Homo sapiens: one gene and its partners. The protein of the gene in region 1 interacts with the protein of each later gene in a pairwise test. Each region holds a gene or a part of one and is shown on either strand. Other genes may lie near its edges.

Region 1 (7,032 bases):
TGCAGGCAGAGGGGGACGGGCCTGCCGCTGGTCTGGGTCTAGGGGCCGTCCCCATGGGGTCCAGTGATTCCCATGCAGCCATCCGGATGGGACCCAGGGCACTGGCCATTCGGCCCACAGGGTCCCAGACATGCGAGAGCCAATGAGGAAGAGAGCGCACGGGCAGAAACCAGAGCTGGGAGGGCAAGTAACGCAGTCTTTATTTACACCACAAGATAACACGTTGCGTGATGTGGTACAGAATACTGGACTCCAGTGAAGTGGAAAGAAGGTGACCGTCAGAAGAGGATATCATTGGTCGGTGAAAATCCACCCACACAAAACAAGACAAGAATGAGAAAACCAAACACAAAACCTCCAACTCCACTGAGCAAAAGAAAGAACCATCGGGCACGTCCAGACAATCCAAGAGAAACGGATTAAATTACAGAGGTGAATGGTGGCCACGGCCAGTGCGCAGCTCACGGCGGGCGCGAACAGGCATCAGGTAGGTTACAGTGTCGTTACAACTTGGTTTTCTACCACATTCCGTAAGAAGCTCTTGGGTGAGTAAGGTTCAAGCCCCCTGTATAGATAGATAGATAGATAGATAGATAGATAGATTATATATGTTTGTCATTCTCATCAATTGGAAAATAGCGCCTCCACTATGGAGCACACACGGCAAAAAAAACAAACAAAAACTGTTCGCTTTCTTTTTCTTTCAATAGCAGACTTTTAATCAATGCCAGAGACAAAGTGAGGCCGAGCTAAGAACACGCTCAGCTTCGTTACAATGAAGAAATGGTTTCCTTTCGATGCAAAGTATAATTGTAAACCACAGTGCTCGCACAGTTCACGACTGCTTAAAGTGAAATCTTAGCCATACATCACCTAAAAGTAATTAAAAAGTCAACACAGCTGTGCGGAAAAGGGGACTCTTTCGAGTCCGCCCAGTTCTCAATCAGAATAAACCGTCACAAGGCCAGTGAGGGCGGGCGGCGCTCGCCTGGCCCGTGGAAGGAGATAAAAGGAAACAAACAAAACAAAACAAAACAAAATTCCTCCAAATCAACTCGAGAGAGACAGGCAGTTCACTGTGAATTCTGAGTAGTTTCCCTAAAACACTGTTTCCACATAAATACAATAAACTCTATTATTGGTATGTCACAAGTGCTAGATAAACTTTTTTTCTTAATATGACAAATGTTTAAGTAGTCCTTTTTATTTTTCTTACAATAAAAAGTACAATTTCTTAAGAATAAGTTCAATAAGACGCAAACTTCCCCGCCCTCCTCTCCTTCAAGGTTTTGTTTTACAGAAAAATTTCCATCTTTTGTATCTGCAAATGTCATGAGAGGGGAACAGAAAGGCATTTTTCTTCTTCCCCAAAGCTGCCGAGTTTGGCGTGCAAAATCTGTATACAATATAAAGTCATGCCGGTCGTACAGTCCATGCAACCTCCAGGTGTAGGAAACTTAAAAAAATATATTCATATATATTTATATCTATATATTTATATATGTATCAATGCCCATAAAACACGTGGGCCCAAAGTCTACAAAAAGAAGAATGGAATGAGCACGTGGCTGTGACCAGTAAAGAAGGAATGTTCTGATCAAAAAGAAAAACAACAAAGTCCATTGCTAGTGCTGCAAAAATCAAACTTGCTTTTGTGTCAGACCATTACGAAATGGTCCTTCCCCTTGCAAACAGATTTTCAAAAGAAGTAAAGAAAAACTGAAACACCTTGACAAAGTGGCCCTCCAGAACCAGAGCCCTGGGACGCTGGGGAGGGGCGGCCAGTCCCAGCGGGCCACGGCCTCCGGGACAGCCGCCTGCTGGTGGGGCGTGGGCACGTGGGCACGCTGCGGCACGGCGGGAAGCCGCGAGGGCAGGGCAGACGCCAAGAGGCCCAGTGGCGTCATCAGGGTTTCCCTCAAAGGGATATAAAGTGCTCGCTTGCTGACTCCCAGCCAGTGCCCCCAAGGCCTTTGCAAAGGAAGAAAAAGGCTAAAGGTCCAAGGACCCACAGGGAGAACACATGAAGGAACCCTCCCTGACGTGGTCCCGCCTGCAGACGCCGAGGCAGATCCTCTGCCATCTGCCCTGGACGCTTGCTGTGGAGAAGAGCCGAGTGTGTCTTCAAAGAAAAGGCTACACAGTAATGCTCTCAGCACATTTGTGAAGCTGGAGTGAGCTGACAGATGAAACGTGCCTCCCCCTGCCAGGCCTTTGCAGAGGGCGTCTCCATTTGAATGAGATTAGAATTAAGTCCCCCCACTGATAACCTGGCCACTGAGCAGTCCATGTTATCCCATCATCTGCTTAAAAAAAAAAAGTGAGATGATGCATTCCTCCCCATAAGCCACGGCGGGGTAAGAGGGCAGGTGGCAGGATCCCCAGAGGGCTATGCAGAGAATGAGGCCAAGGAGGCCAGAAGAGCCTGCTAGCTGGGCCCTGCCACTGCTCTGTGCCATGAATGGGGAATGGACCAGCTCCTCTTGCCAATCTGGGCTTCAGAGCAAAGAGTGGCCACCAGGGAGGGGAAAGTCAAACAAGTCCCAAGACCGTTCTGCCTGCTCTCAAACCACTGTCTCAGAGCTGACCATCAGCAGCCCAGTGACCAAGTGAATCCAAGAATCTGCACTCATTTGGTCAAAAGTTTGAGTTAATTTCAGAAGCTACCCTGTAAACTTTACCAAACTCCGAAACTCGGCTCTGGGTCCCTCCTGAGCACGGTGTGTCTGAACTTCTGCCCCCAAGTCTGAACCCAATATACACTTTGGAATGAAACTGGTGGCTTCATGTGCTGGAAAATAAGTTACCAGTAAAACGTGACTGTCAGTTACTGTTGAAGAGAAAAAGAGTAAAGACTGGCTGTCCTGGTCAGGCAATCATACCCTCCCTGCAGGTTCACCAGGCAACAAGGGTCCCTGGGTTCCTTGCAGCCACAGGCTCCAAAATCCAGGGCTGGCCACGTGGCTGCAGTGGAAAAACCCAAGTGGGTAAAGAGCCCCACGTGTGCCCCATGCATTGCTGACATGCTCAAAAGGTCTTTGGAAAACTCAAGTTAGAATTCTATCCTGACGATGTGGTCAGAGAAGTTTAAACATGAGTTTCATTAATGCTGACTGCCCCCGGCATCTGGCAAGCCTCCCAGGGTGGCCGGGCATCCTAAGCAACCCTCCCTGCCCTTGCCACGGAGGGGAAAAACACACCACCCCTCGTAATACTACTAGTGTTGAAAGTTAAAAAGAGCCCCTGGGCTTCTTTATACAGCTCCTAGGACAGACCAGGAAAGACACAATCGTTGGTGTCACTCCGAAAAGACCTACGGTCCCTCCTCTCACTTTCTGAAAATAGAATCTGACAGCAACAATTCTGTACGCTGCAGAAAACTCATCGTACAAAAATAAAAACAAAAATAATTAAAAACCTTTGAAAGGTAAAAAAAAATGTACAAGCAAGAATTCAGAAAGGAAAAAGATTTAGACATTATTACCATTCAGAAAATTGCTAAATGGTGAGGAAAAATGTAAAATTCATAAAACAATGCTTATTCAGGATCTTTTTGTGAAAAAATTCATACAAAAATCAACAGCAAATTTATATTCTTTGCTATAAAAACTCATTAGGTACATATGTGCATGAAGGCTTGGAGACGGGAGCGGTTCTGTTAGAAAATAATTAAAATGAAAGTACAAACTTGTAGGGTAGTTGCCCAGTGGCGAATGTGTTGGCGATCTGAAATCTAGCCAATCTGGAGCTTGAGAAAACATGAATTTCAATCAATCAGGATCCCTTTCCATAAGCACCTTGAGAGCAAATTCACAAGCCATCCATTTGCAGGGACCTTCGCAATCTGCATTCATTTTATATATATATATATACTTTTTCTATAAATGCATTATAAATATTTTATCAAGATTTCATAAGAATCAAGTAAGTTTCTTAGCTTGGAATACATTGGAATATATATTATACATATATATATTTATTTATACCTAAAATTTAAGCAATACTTCATGCTACTTGCTTTTAATAAAAAGCATTCCGATCGTAACACTGCAAGTGTGCCTACCACATGCTTCACGACCAGATGGAGATGCTCAATCGTATGTGACGTGTGAGAACACTTTGGATTCGTTTAAAATTTGTTGGACTTCAAAACCTCCAACGGGATTTGCCACTTTTTTGGAACTACCTCCATTTTTCTTAAACAGCAATAAAGCAAAACAGGGACCGCCGGGCTGCAGCCCCTGGCCCCGGAGATGACGGCTGGTGCCCGTGCTTGAGGCGTCAGGCCAGCTCGCGGTGCCAGCACTGCCAGGCTCGGCTGGCCACAGGAAACTGTCCCACCGATTCCTGCTGTTTGTTTTTTCTTAAGGCATTGTTCCTCAGACTTCAGAAAACCCAGCCACAAAAATCCACCAGAGCAATAAAAAAAAAGGCACAAACTCGCATCTTCCGATGGCTTTTGAGAAACTCAAGCCAGCTCCCCCAGCTCACATTCCTGTTTCTGTCCAGTTTTGTTTTCTTTAAAGGTCCCTCTGTCCCCCACCCGGGTGCAGACCCCCCGCCGCACACCGCTATGGTTCACAGAGGCGGGCCACAGCCGTAGAAAACGTCCTCTTTAAAAAAAAATAAGCTACAAGATGAGTCGAGTGGTTTACACAGAGACTGTGGAGTTGTGGGTAATAAACTTTAAGCACCAGTTTTAATCAAGTTTGTTTTGTATTATTAGATCTTTGATATTTGTTTTCTGTGCCTCGTGTCAACTGAATTCGGCAGCTCGGCCGCCTGTTGCCACAGGCTCCTTTCTTCCACGGCGTCCCTTGCGGGACCCGCCAGAGTGTGCTTGGCTTCCGCGTGTCCGTGTGTCTGCGCGTCGCCGGCGTCTGTCCCGTGTTCCCTGTGAGGCTGCCACGCCCAGGCGTGCATGTGCGTCTCGAGACCTGTGGGCCTGGGCGGCAGAAAGGCTTCCCGTGGCTGTTGCACGCTGGGTGTCCCTGGGTGCTCCAAGAGAGCCCCACGGTGGGACGCAGGCGTGACACGGGAAAGTTTCTTGGCTGAGCTTCAAGACAGAGACAGACAGACAAGAGAACAGCAGCTTCGAGGGAGTGCTACAGGGGCGGCTCCTCTTCCATGGGCTCCTCATCTGGTCTGTGGATCCCGCAAGAGAAGGAGATGGGGGCGTGGGGCAGGTGCACCACAGAGAGGAGAGAACAGAACGTGGGTTAAAGGCTGTGTGCTGCCCCACCCGCCAGCCTAGCCCTGGCCTGGCAGCCCCGGGTCCATCTGTTCAGGATCTAATGCTCCTCATGCGTCTCTAAGGGGCTTTGGCACTGGAAGGAGGGGGCCACACTGGCCTGTCTCTAGTCTGTTGGGCAGGGCATGTGCCATAAAGGTTCTGACCCTGAATAGTGTGTCAGTGGGCACAGTGGGGCTGGGTGAGCCTGCAGGCGGGCGGCAGGGCAGGTGCTCACCTCTTTTCGGCGGGCTTCACGCCCACGGACAGCGAGGCCATGGCGGTGACCGTCTCGGCTTCTTCGTTCTCGCAAGTCTGAGCCTCGATCAGAGAACGCCCCGCTGTGGAGGTTGTGCGCTGCAGGCAGCGCCAGTACTTGCCTGGGGTGGTGGGGTGAGGAAAGTCGCTCAGTGACTACAACTTAGCAGGATGCACTGAGGCCCGGGAAGGTCCTGCGGGACCCTGAGCCTCAAACCAGATTGATCCCTTATGATTTTAAAAGCACCCGTCTTTGAAGAGACACGAAGCAGAAGACTGCATGGCTACAAACTCACAAAGACCCAAAAAATCTCTGGAAATGTTTCCCCATTGTGAGTGGCTCGAGTCCCTCCAGGAGCAGGCCCACCTAGGACTGCAGAGGGAGGCTCCTGTAGGCCTGGCTTTCCACGCTCACGGGCCCCTTTCTGCCCTGGGTGGCCAGGGCAGGGGGCTGCCAGCCTGCTGGGTTGAGCCTTCCTATCTCTGGGAGCAGGTGAGCTGGGGGATTGTCGCTGGGGCTGAGGGGTCTTCTGCCTGGGCCCTCACAGAGGCTGGGGGTGGAGGGGTACTGCGTCAGGCGCAAGGGGGTGTATGTGGAGGGCTGGGCCTGGCCCAGGGTCAGCTTCAGGGCTCTGAAGCCAGGACTCCCTCACACAGGGAAACGGGGAGCTGAGCTCTGGACTACCCCTGCTTCTGTGGACAGTCTCAACCATCTGGGTCATCTCAAAGGCAAGACAAGCTGGGCTTGCGACAATGACAGGGTGTGGGAGGCGCCTCTGAGATAGGCTGCGTGCCACGCCCTTGCACCCAGGACCTGCTGCTTGAGGGTCGGTGCCAGAACTCAGAGGGCCTACACCCTGCCTCTCTGCAGGGCCAAGGGTTCTTTGAGGTCAGGACGTGGGCTTCTCTGGTCCAGGGAAGAGGCCGGAGTCCCCAGGGTACAGGCTCACAGCCATGGCCCCCGCTGCTAGCTGGGGACCTAGAGCAAGTGACTCCACACTGAGACTGTCTGGGCCTTGATTCTCTAGACTTACAAATTGGGCTGATGGAACCATCCCAGCAGGCCGGGGGAAATCCAGTCGGGGTTAAATGTGAGTCTCTACCAGCTCAAGAAATGCAGCTGAAAGCAAGGCCTTCTGCTGCAGGCCTGGGGAAGCAGCCGGCAGTGGGATGGAGAAGAGCTGGGGGTATAGGGGGACAGGGATGGGGTGTGGTGCAGTCCCACCCCCAGGGGCGTGTCCCCTGTGAGCACCCAGCCAGGCAACTTACTGTGGATCTCCATGACTTTCTCCATGGAACGGACAGCGTTTGCATTGGGTCTTTGCTGTAAAACCTTTTCTGGGAGAGGATCAAGCTGGAAGAAAATGCATAAGAATATAAAGACTGCCAATATAATCCACACGTGCGTTAGACGGGTGTTCCGAGACTGCAACTGTTTCCTGAGCACAGAGACCCTTGTGGGGTGCATTTGCCCACAGAGTAGAAAAAAATAACTTTAAAAAGCCAAATGTGCCGTGGTATTTATAATTTTTTTGTAAAAGTGG
Region 2 (7,032 bases), on another chromosome or scaffold:
AGTTAAAGATGCTGCAGGTCTTGTGGGGAAGAGAGGATTTCTGTGGTTCCTGTTTGTGCTTCAGGAGGAAATCCTGAGACTCCCTGCACACCCCTCAGCCTTCCCTGTCTCTCCTGAGGGTCCCCACCTTGGTCCCTGGGTCTGCTGTGTCCCCCATGACTGTGTCCCTGCCCTGGGTTGCTGCAGAGCTGTGGGAACCATCCCAGGTCTTCGCCTTGGGTACCTGGTTCGGGTGGAGCATCTCTAGGACTGACCTTGTCTCACCACCACCAGTCCCAGTCATGCATAGCTCTTGTCTTCTGCTGCCTGCTGTTCTGCTGGTCTGAGCCACTGTGCCAAGCTTCTCTGTGCCCACCCCCAGCGTGGCTTTCCCCAGTCACTGCCCAAGGCTCACACCCCATGGGTCAGAAAGGGTACATTTGACGATAAAACAGCCTTCATTGTATCCTTTGACCCACCACCCTGCTACCCACAACAGCCCCTCCCCTTTTTTCCTCCCTTGGGTCAACTGGTTGTCTGTCCCCCTCCACACCCCAACACACCATGAGGACCTGTGAAGCTTTACAGTAACAAACATATTTGGCATGTGTTGGACAGTTCTGATTGCCTCAGACCTGGTCCTTCTGGTGACCCTACTGGTATCTCGTCAGATGTGAAGAAACAGAGGTTTGCAAGGTTCCATCATGTGCCTAAGGTGTCCTGGCTGGTAGGGGGTGAGGTGCTTCTCAGATCCTGACTCTAACCGCTGTGTATGTGTGGGCCCTACATGTGGGCAGCCCCTCCAGCTTCTCTCCTGCTAGTGAGAGCATCTTTCCTGCCTGGGCCCCTGGGAGGTGGGTAAGCTTCTGAGGACTGGCCTGGATTGGGCCTTGGTGGGGATGTGGCTCCATTTCCCAGATGGGGAATCAGAGGCCCAGAGAGCCACAGGAGGCCTGGGGTCAGAGCTGGGTCTCATACACACACCAAGATCTTTCTTCATATTTGCCCCAAGAAGGAGTAGGGTGAAGGGGCTGGCCTAGGCCATCAAGGCAGAGATGAGAGTTTCCTGGTGTTGAGGTTGTCTGGTGGGGACAGGAGAGAGGGCAGCCGACCCCCTGCACAGTGGCTCCTTGAAACAGGCAATTGTCACACCCTGCTTGCTGATGAGCAGTCTGAGGTGTGGGGATCCCACAAAGGGGAGTTGAGATGGGACCCTGGTGGTCAGCTACAGGCCTGTGCTCCCACCTCCTTCATTTGGGCTGCCCAGTCACACGCAGCAGAGCTTGTCCCCTGTACTTCTTTGGGCTGACATCAGACAGGCTCACTGGGAGAAGGTGCTTACTTGAGGGAAAACTAAACCCCATGGCGACCAGTCAGCCTGTTTGAGCCCTTGGCAATTGGCCGTGTGCTGGATGGAGGTGCTAGGTGGCAGGCCACATGAGCCTGGCTGCCTACGCCCAGTAGTGTGGGCATGGAAGCACAGTGTTTGCGTCCTACTACAGCATCAGCAGAGATGGTGCCATCATCACCCATGACATGGTATGGCCAGGCCAGCATTTGACCTGGGTGTGCCTCTGTGTTCTGGGTTTGGCAGTGGTGCAAGGACAGAACTCCTAGTACACCTTGCCTGGGCCAGGTGATGAAGGACCCTGAGGACTCACATGAGCACTGCCAAGGGAACAGCAGTCTCGTGTGTGCCTCTGGGGGACCCTAATGGTATGAGGCATCTGGCCAGGCTCTCTGCTTCAGTCTTTAGTTGGGCATGTCACTATCTCCCTGCCCAGGCACATGGAAGCTTCTGGGCTCTCACTTCCCACTGCCTGGAGCACCTTCTAGGTTTGTTGATCTTGACTGGCAGGCCTGGGAGAGTTGGTGGGACTCAGACCTTCCCCTCAGCTTCCACTCCGCCTGAGGAGCCGGCTGGGTGGCCGCGTTGAATCAAGTGGCACATGTTTGCACACCTGCTGCAGACCACTTGCTTGCCAGTTAGCAAGGAAAAAGCAGGAACTGGGCAAACCTTTCTGGCAGAGAGGTACCCAAGTCTCCAGCTGGGGTGTGGAGAGCCTGGGTGTGACTTGGCTTGTGCAGCTCCCCTAAGCACACTCCTGGGGGGTGCTGCACTCTCACTAGCAGGAGAGAGGCTGGAGAGCCTGCCCACTCCCTATCCACCCCCCGTGTAGCCACTGTGGGGCCCGGCCCTGGTGATGGCTGTGCTGGTGCTGCTTTCTCCCGCTTCGTCCCAGCATGCACCTCGCTCACTTTCTCCTCTGGTACAAGGCTTTGCCAGGCCTTCTCTTCCTCCCTGTGTGGTATCTCTGTTTCTTTTGGTGTCAGCTTTCTGTCACTTCCTTGGGTCACTTATAATGAGAGGGCCATGTCTGCGTCCATTTGCTGTAGGTTTTAAATGTAATCTTCATTGTAAATAGTAAGCATTTGTCAGTAGTACTTGCTGTATATTGTTGACTCTCCTCCCCTCTCTGTTGCATTCCTTTTTTCCTTTGTTTTGGGAGGGATGTCCTATTTCATTTTGCCAGTATGATCGTTTTGTGTGTACTTGCATGGGATCTTGGAATCTTGTCTATAAAGTATGTTCCATTCAGATGAGTGCACACATGTGACCAGGAGAAACCATAGCATAAGCCAAGAGAACAGTGTGAGAGGTGGGCGAAGCTATGGGGCCCGCAAGATGGACAGGGCTTCTGGCCGAGAGTCCAAGAGGGCTTTGGAGCAGGGGTGGTGATGGTCTGGGGAGCCAGGCCTTTGCAGATACACAGGGAGGCAGCTGGGTCAGCAGAGTACAGGGAGGGGATAGAGAGTTTGTCAAGGGGATGATTTTGCCCCTGGGGGACATTGGCAACGTCTGGAGAGATTTTTCAGTTGTCACAATGGAGGAGGCAGCCGTGTCTGGTGGCCAGAGGTCAGGGAGCTGCTAGACATATGATGTACAGGCCGGCTCCCACCACAAAGAAGAAACGTCCCTGAATGTTGCTAGGGCTGCGGCTGAGGGGCCCAGGTCCCTGGCACATGGCAGCAAGTTGGAAATTCTGTCTTGATTGCATCCTGTTTGCCCCAACCCTGCACTAGCCTCTCCCATGACATCTCTTGGCTCCTTATGGGCAACTTAGAGCCTGAACTAATTTTTAACAGCTTTATTCAGGTGATTTACATCTCATATAGTTCACCCACATAAGGTGTACAACTCAGTGTATTTTATGATAGTCACATATATGTGCCCCATTCCACAATCTTAGAACAGTTCATTGCTCCAAAAAGAAAACCCATTTCAGTCACTCCCCATCCCCCTCCCCAGCTCCTGGCAGCCACTAACCTACTTTGTGTCTCTATGAATTTGCCTATTCTGGATATTTCATGGAAATGGAATCATATAATGCATGGCCTCTCGTGACAGGCCTTCTTTCACTCAGCAGAATGTGTTCACGGGTCATTCATGTTGTAGCATGTGTCAGTACGTCATTCCTTATTGTGGCTGAACAACATTCCATTGTGTGGAGAGACCACATTTTGTTTATTCATTCATCAGTCAATGGGCACTTGGGCTGCTTCCACCTTTTGGCAAAATGAACGCTGCTGCTGTGAACATGTGTGGACCGGTTTCTGTGTGGGCATGTGTACATTTCTCTGGGGTAGACCCTCTGTGTTTAACAGTTGCAGCACCTGCAGGCTGTTTGCCAGAGCACTATACCATTTATATGCCCACCTGCGCACTACTGTGTACATGCCCAATAATAGAAGGCAGGAACTACTTTTAACCCCATTTTAATTTAAAGATGAAGAAACCAAGGGTCGGAGCAGGCAGTCACGGGTTCCCAGGTGAGAAGGGCTGAGGGAATTTACTCTGGAACCTCTGCAGTCCGCTGTGCACTCTGGCATACTGCTCTGGGCTCCCTCTCCTCTCCAGGCAGTCACACTGGCACCTGCAGGCCAGGGCTCTTGAGTTCTGGCTGTATGGCTGGCCATGGCGTGCCTGGCTGCACTGAGCCCCTCTCGTGCCCTGTGGAGGCTGCTCATACCTGCCTTTCCCTCTCCCCCAACAGATCAACCAGAATGTGGAGATCCAGCGTGGCCGCCTGCGGGATGACATCAAGGAGTACAAATTCCGGGAAGCTCGTCTGCTGCAGGACTACTCGGAACTGGAGGAGGAGAACATCAGCCTGCAGAAGCAAGTGTCTGTGCTCAGACAGAACCAGGTGAGTCTTGGGCCTGTGGGGTGGAGGTGGCACGTGGGTTAACTGGGCCTTGAGGACCTCTTGCTCAGCCCCTCTCCCTGTTGGGAAGGGGTTCCTGTCTTATTCCACACACCCGAGGCCCAGGGCCAGCTTTACCACTGTGGAGGCAGGGGTATACTTGGTGGGACCCAGACTCTCCAAAAGATGAAACTCTGGCTGCAGTGTTTGCTGACATTGGCCAGGCTGAGGTGTCCCAGCCAACAAAAATGAAAACAAAAATCTGAGAGGTAATGAAGAGGTTACACCAGAAAACCCCAGATTGGACTTTGAGACTCCCCCATCAGGTGCTGACCATGAGGCCTGCAATATTCCTGTGTCTCTGCCTGTGACAGGGACAAGGAAGGTCCTCTCTGTCTGTGACGGGGATGAACAGGAACCCCTCTGTCTCTAATGGGGTCTCAGAGGGACCCCTGACAGGGACGAGTAGGGTCTCTGCCTGTGACAGAGATGAATAAGGAGGGTCCCTTCTCTTTGTGATGTGACTAAATTGTCATGTGCTCTGCTGTTCTGCCACTCAAGGCCTGAACTTGCTCTTCTCTCTGCAAGAGCCACACTCCTGCATGGTGGGGAATGGGAGTCTTTTCTCTCCCAAAACTTTCCCCAGAATGCCATGGATGTCTTCCTTGCTTTCCTCAAATCCTCTACCACCAAAATCCTCTGAGTCTCACCATCAGGGAATGTGGTATTTATGCCCGGAGGAGGAAGCTCATGTGTTTATGCAGAGCTCCTAGCCTGGTCCTTCTGTGACAGCTCGAGCTCATTAACAGTCTTAGCCACTGTCTACATTGTAAGTACCATTTGGTCATTGGTGCTGCTGTTGGCAGAGCCCAGCGCATGGTGGCCTTAGGAGAAGGGAAACTGAGGCTTGAGGCGACCCTGTCCTCAGGTTGGCGCTTAGTGGAGTCTGACTCTCTCTCCCTCTCTGGGATTCCTCACCTCCGCATTTGTGGTGCTGGGACTGAGGGCTCCATGCCCACCTCCTGTGAGCACACCTTGGATGTGGTAATGGGTGTCCCTTCCGACCCAAGACCCACAGAGATGTGCTCAGCACTTCCTGTTACTGGTTTGTTTCTTATTTTTTTCTCCAAATATTACAGAAAAATAAGAAATAGTTTTAGCAATTGCCCACAAATTCTGAGCCTCCACATCAGGCATCAGTTTCTATCTGCTTTTTCCTTGCCCACCTGCAGATACAATTTTCATGTAGACAAGACTTTGATGTTGCTTTTCCCACCTACCTTCGAGCTCCTCCAGGTCTGGGTGTCATGTGCATGTGGAGGTTTAGTGGTTGAGATGTTCTGCCTTGCGGGGAGTTTCTGTTCCTTCATTTTGAACTATGATTAGAAGTCATGATCATAGCACACATTGAAATATATTTTTATGTATCTTAAGATATTTAGTTAACTGTTAATGTTAATTAAATAACTTTATAGAATTTTTAATCAGCATGCACTTGGTAATATTTGTGAATGACTTAATACAAGGTTGGCAGCCTTCTATGGATGGATGTGTGTTGTTCTTGGTGCATCTCCACACGTACAGTCCTGGCTTGGGGCCACCTCAGACATTTGTGCTCCCCTTGCTGTGTCTGCTGGTCCCAGCGGTGGGTGGGCTGGGCTGAGCATTTCATTGCATTCGCATCTCATGCCCTGGAACCTTCTTAGCATCCACATCTCTGAGCAGAGGAAGCAGTCTTGGCCTGGACGGGCTGCCACCCTTCCCAGGATGGCACCTCACCTGGCGCTTCATCTTTTGCTTCATAGTGGCCGGAGTTGGTGTGCTGGTGTGTTTTCTTCATTTATGGGGCCTGAAAGGAGCTTCCACATTGCATTGATGCAAGAGCGTTGACTTCTCTTCCCAGGTGGAGTTTGAGGGCCTCAAGCATGAGATCAAGCGTCTGGAGGAGGAGACCGAGTACCTCAACAGCCAGCTGGAGGATGCCATCCGCCTCAAGGAGATCTCAGAGCGGCAGCTGGAGGAGGCGCTGGAGACCCTGAAGACGGAGCGCGAACAGAAGAACAGCCTGCGCAAGGAGCTGTCACACTACATGAGCATCAATGACTCCTTCTACACCAGCCACCTGCATGTCTCGCTGGATGGCCTCAAGTTCAGTGACGATGCTGCCGAGCCCAACAACGATGCCGAGGCCCTGGTCAATGGCTTTGAGCACGGCGGCCTGGCCAAGCTGCCACTGGACAACAAGACCTCCACGCCCAAGAAGGAGGGCCTCGCACCGCCCTCCCCCAGCCTCGTCTCCGACCTACTCAGTGAGCTCAACATCTCTGAGATCCAGAAGCTGAAGCAGCAGCTGATGCAGGTGAGCAGGCAGTGGGGCCTTCGGCACGCTGTCCCCACTCCAGGTCTGCAGGGCTCCCCGAGCAGTGCTTACCTGACACTCTGCTGATGTTAACTTTCCCTTTTCCTTACGTTGATTTTATCTCCTGCATCATTACGGTAAATGGAACTCCAGGAGCACACATAGAGGAGTCTCAGAGAAGTGGTTTCCTGGCACTGCAGCACCCACATTGCTCCCCTGTTAACTACGTGGTGTCAGGGTGAAGTGATGAGACACTGGCCCACATGTGATCCCTGCACGCAGGCCAGGTGTCAGGGGCCCACCATGGTCATGCTTGGGCTCATCCCCTGGGACATGGATCCCTGTTGATCCAAGGCAACAGAGTCCTGTCCTCCGAAGCAGAGGGCTAGGGTGCTAATATTCCCGACTACACACCCAGCCAGCCTAGAGCTCCACTTTCTTAGCCCAGATCCCCTGTAGCATGGTTGGGGAAAGAGCCTGCGTTGAGGG
Region 3 (5,216 bases), on another chromosome or scaffold:
TTTCTTCTTTTCTTAAAATAAACATATGGTATTGTGGTATAATAAAAATTATATATTTGGTCTTTGTCCCTGGTTTCTGGCATAGAACTCCTAAAACCCTTGGAATTTCCTGATAGGTTGAGGTCTGGTCACCAGAGAAGGCAACCACATGATTAGAGGGTTAGATCTATCAGTCCCAGCCCCACAACCTCTGGATAGAGGGAAGGGTTGGAGCTTGAGTTCAGTCACCAATGGCCAATAATTGAATCAATCATGCTGATGTGAGAGAAGACCTGGAGAAAACTGAAATGGGTCTAAAGGAGCTTCTGGGCAGTGCTGGGAGGCCAGTGAGCCCAGAGATGGAGACTCTATGTCAGCCCCACCCCAACAAGAGTTGGTGCTGACAATCGGAGAATTGGTGTTGGAACAGCAGAACAGCAGGTATCTTTTTTTTTTTTTTGAGATGGAGTTTCATTCTTGTTGCCCAGGCTGGAGTGCAATGGCGCCATCTCGGCTCATTGCAACCTCTGTCTTCCAGGTTCAAGCAATTTTCCTGCCTCAGCCTCCCAAGTAGCTGGGATTACAGGCGTGTGCCACCACACCTGGCTAATTTTTGTATTTTTAGTGGAGACGGGGTTTCAGCATGTTGGTCAGGCTGGTCTCGAATTCCTAACCTCAGGTGATCCACACGTCTTGGCCTCCCAAAGTGCTGGGATTACAGGCGTGAGCCACCGCAGCCAGCCAAGAAACAGCAGGTATCTTATCTGTTTGTGTCACCTGGTCCTGATCTTCTCTTACAGTATCTGACGAAGCAAGTGGAACTTCTACGGCAGATGAACGAACAACATGCAAAGGTTTATGAACAATTAGACGTCACAGCAAGGGAACTGGAAGAAACAAATCAAAAGCTAGTTGCTGACAGCAAGGCCTCACAGCAAAAGATTCTGAGGTAAATTTTCTAGAATCTGACAAGGAAGGACTAGGGGGAAGTTCTTTAGTATAAACTAGAATAGAACATGGCTGCAGTGGGTTTGGGTCAATATGGGATAAGGTTTAATTTAATTCTTTTTGGAGAATGGAGATTAAATAGACATCCTTTCCAATTAAGAAAGCCCAGTGTGAGTGGTTTGCACCTAATCTCTCCTCACCGCTTTTGCCCTTGATTCAATATGACAAGCAGCAGTGGCTTCTGTCTGTTCCTCACAGCCTGACTGAAACGATTGAATGCCTGCAAACCAACATTGATCACCTCCAGAGCCAAGTGGAGGAGCTGAAGTCATCTGGCCAAGGGAGAAGGAGCCCGGGAAAGTGTGACCAGGAGAAACCGGCACCCAGCTTTGCATGTCTGAAGGAGCTGTATGACCTCCGCCAGTAAGAGCCTGCCTTTCTGTGGAGTTACAGCAGGGACTGTCTCATGTCATTGGCACATTCTGATTTCCAGTAGATTGAAAGTACCATTTTAAGAAAAGTCACTTAGCTATTAAGCTACCATTGGTTTGAACAAAATCACTTAAACATATAAATTACAGAGTTCTTAGATATTAGTAGTTCTCATTTTGAAAGTCTTGGAACACTTATTTCAGTGTTTTTAATGTATTAAATCATAGTTTAAGATGAATTCTGATAGACTAGATTTGGGAGTTGTGTTTTACATTAGAGTGAAGAAAAACAGAAATACTGGTAAAACAAAAATTCAAGCGAACAGGAGATTTTTTGCTTAAAGAAGTACCTTTATAATTTAGAGTTATAAGTCTGAATCTTTAAGAAGTATTTATGGAACACTTGTGTGGCAAGCTGTATGCTAGACCCAAGGGTTGGCGAGCAAAATAGTTTCTACCCCTGTGAGCTTTCAGTCTAACGGAACGGCAGATAAGCAAATAAAAACACAAATAAATAGTCAAGGTGCTTCAGACTGAGCAGGAGAAACCAGGTGGTTCATTTGGTGGGTCTCAACCTTGGCTGTACATCAGATCACCTGTGGGGTTTTTCAAAATGCAAATACCAACACATTTCCTCAGGCCTAAATCAGAATTTCTAGGTGCGGGTAAAAAGCTGCCCAGGCAATTCTGATGAACATTCCTGGTTAAAAATCACCACAGCAACAGTAATTTGCTGTAGTGATTCAATCGTAGTTACATATTATGAATCATTTGGAGAGCCTTTAGAAACCCTCAGGCCAGGTAGCAGACCAACTAGGTTGGAATCTGTGGGTTGGGACCCAGGCACCAGTACTTTTTAAGGTTTCCCTTGTGAGGTCATTGTCATACTGCTAGAATAGATGTTCTCTAGTACTTTTAACATTAAAAAAAGATTTGTCACAAAAATTGAGTTTGCTTTCATGTGTTTATTTACCAGCCTCACACAATTCCATTTTAGCCACTGCTCCAAGTGTGGCTAAAAACCAATCACTGTTGGCCGGGTGTGGTGGCTTACGTCTGTAATCCCAGCACTTTGGGAGGCTAAGGCAGGAGGATCACCTGAGGTTGGGAGTTCGAGACCAGCCTGACCAACATGGAGAAACCCCGTCTCTACTAAAAATACAAAATTAGCTGGGCGTGGTGGCGCATGTCTAAAATCCCAGTTACTCGGGAGGCTGAGGCAGGAGAATCGCTTGAACCTGGGAGGCTGAGGTTGCAATGAGCTGAGATCGCTTCACTGCACTCCAGCCTGGCGACAAAGTGAGACTCCGTCTCAAAAAAAAAGAAAAAAAAATTAGTCACTGTCACAGCTCCTCAAATTTATTTAGTTGAAAAAAAATCACCAGTCTTCCTCTCGTCATTTTCAGTGGACCTGTGTAATATATTCTTTCAATATTTTTTTCCCTAGACACTTCGTGTATGATCATGTGTTCGCTGAGAAGATCACTTCCTTGCAAGGTCAGCCAAGCCCTGATGAAGAGGAAAATGAGCACTTGAAAAAAACAGTGACAATGTTGCAGGCCCAGCTGAGCCTGGAGCGGCAGAAGCGGGTGACTATGGAGGAGGAATATGGGCTCGTGTTAAAGGAGAACAGTGAACTGGAGCAGCAGCTGGGGGCCACAGGTGCCTACCGAGCACGGGCGCTGGAACTAGAGGCCGAGGTGGCAGAGATGCGACAGATGTTGCAGTCAGAGCATCCATTTGTGAATGGAGTTGAGAAGCTGGTGCCAGACTCTCTGTATGTTCCTTTCAAAGAGCCCAGCCAGAGCCTGCTGGAAGAGATGTTCCTGACTGTGCCGGAATCACATAGAAAGCCTCTCAAGCGCAGCAGCAGTGAGACGATCCTCAGCAGCTTGGCAGGGAGTGACATCGTGAAGGGCCACGAGGAGACCTGCATCAGGAGGGCCAAGGCTGTGAAACAGAGGGGCATCTCCCTTCTGCACGAAGTGGACACGCAGTACAGCGCCCTGAAGGTGAAGTATGAAGAGTTGCTGAAGAAGTGCCAAGAGGAACAGGACTCCCTGTCACACAAGGCTGTGCAGACCTCCAGGGCTGCAGCCAAGGACCTGACTGGAGTGAACGCCCAGTCTGAGCCTGTTGCCAGCGGCTGGGAACTGGCCTCTGTCAACCCAGAGCCCGTGAGTTCCCCTACAACACCTCCAGAATACAAAGCGTTGTTTAAGGAGATCTTTAGTTGCATCAAGAAAACTAAGCAGGAAATAGATGAACAGAGAACAAAATACCGATCACTCTCCTCTCATTCTTAATTGAACCTCTAGCTCTACTACTAATTTGCCTATTGCCTATCGCCTCTCTCTCCCATTCAGACAAGTGTTTGTAGACTCTGAAGCCTAATGTTACTCATGACGTTTGCCTCATTGCTTTGCTTATTTAGCAAATGCATACAACGAGGAAAGGAGGTGGCTAGTGGTATCAGTTCTCTGATCCACTTCCATTTAAGCTCCCCAGGAAATCCCATGACAAACTGGCCTCTGGCTGGCGCGCTGATTAGACTTCAGTTCCTGAAAAGGACCAGTGGAGGGAAGAGCTATACTTCTGGAGAAGTAGGCCTGGAGTTACTACAGTATGGGGGAAAAGGGTCGAGTTAGAACAAAGCTAAGGCAATTCCTATTGCTTCCTTGCGCAACTTCTCAAAACGATGAAAGTCAGAAGGCTGTCAAACTCAAATATCTTTGCAAACAGTTTGAATACTGTGAATTCATTACGAAGAATGTTCGAGAGAAAGCAGGGGTCTAATCCAAAAGAAATGTCATTAACCAATACTCCAAGTCCTTGAGTTTTGTTATATCTGAACTAGTTGAACTGTGACTGACAGGTAATCCTAATATATCCAAATCCAACTGAATACCAAATTGAGATGGCAAATTTTTGTTTGATATAAGTTAGCTTGTTAGCATATGCCCTAGAGGGCCTCCATCCCTGTATTCTAATGTTTTTACTCAAAGCTCTAGCCTTTAGGATAGGTGAATATGTAAATCTTTTATCACTTTCTCAAATTCAAACTAAAGGGGAAAGATCAAACCCCTTCCCTTCCTACCTGTTTTCTGAGCTGGCTGACTTGCCAGCCACAAGCTGCTCTTGCAGAGTTCTTACCATTCCTGTAAATGTTTTGACTTGTTGCAGAAATTCCTATCTACTTTATTAAGCAGTATTGATCTGACTGTGGAAACATCCTCTCACTTGCATTCTTTTAACTTAAAACTATTTAAGAACTGATGTTCCGATTATTGTATATATTTTTCTAAAAACCAAATAAAGCTACCTATGAAAATGAACAGATGGATCTGTGTCTTACTTTCAATATAAGCCATTTCGCTCTTATAACCAACTGTTCACTTTTTTTCTTCCAACAAATATCGCGAGAAAGATTTGCAGTGATTTTTTTTTTCCTATTTTAAACAGGGAATCCTTGGATTTGTGTAACTTAATAGCACAAATTCTGCTCATATTGCTAAATGCTCATTAAAACTACTCTGGACAAACATTTTCAAATTTATATACTCTGTAATTTTCACTATTTCAGAAATGTCAGACTTGGTTCTGAATTAATAGCATTTGACAAATTGATTCTCAAAACATTTGATCAACCATAGCAAAGAAACTATACTATTCAAACTATACTATTCAAACTATACTATTAATGTTTGAATAGTATAGCTTATTTAAAAACAGTTTGCATTTCTATTAATAAGACAATATTTTTTAATCTGTTAGCCATTTGTAGTCTCCTTTGCCTATTTAAAGAGCTCTATTTATATATGCAGTTTTGCAGTTAGAAGTTTGAAAGTGTTTTGTCCC

The links.
Region 2: the proteins of HDAC4 (region 1) and BICD2 interact in binary tests that used the Homo sapiens proteins (3 or more experiments, as listed by UniProt).
Region 3: the proteins of HDAC4 (region 1) and CDR2 interact in binary tests that used the Homo sapiens proteins (3 or more experiments, as listed by UniProt).

Annotation. Positions count from the first base shown.
Region 1 is NC_000002.12:239,047,992-239,055,023, forward strand, and holds the end of HDAC4 (histone deacetylase 4), read right to left. Parts: intron 6,843-7,032; coding exon 6,758-6,842; intron 5,611-6,757; coding exon 5,469-5,610; intron 5,146-5,468; coding exon 5,106-5,145; 3' UTR 177-5,105; downstream 1-176. UniProt on the Homo sapiens protein: Responsible for the deacetylation of lysine residues on the N-terminal part of the core histones (H2A, H2B, H3 and H4).
Region 2 is NC_000009.12:92,719,811-92,726,842, reverse strand, and holds part of BICD2 (protein bicaudal D homolog 2), read left to right. Parts: intron 1-4,034; coding exon 4,035-4,187; intron 4,188-6,087; coding exon 6,088-6,543; intron 6,544-7,032. UniProt on the Homo sapiens protein: Acts as an adapter protein linking the dynein motor complex to various cargos and converts dynein from a non-processive to a highly processive motor in the presence of dynactin.
Region 3 is NC_000016.10:22,345,413-22,350,628, reverse strand, and holds the end of CDR2 (cerebellar degeneration-related protein 2), read left to right. Parts: intron 1-779; coding exon 780-928; intron 929-1,185; coding exon 1,186-1,350; intron 1,351-2,805; coding exon 2,806-3,664; 3' UTR 3,665-4,693; downstream 4,694-5,216.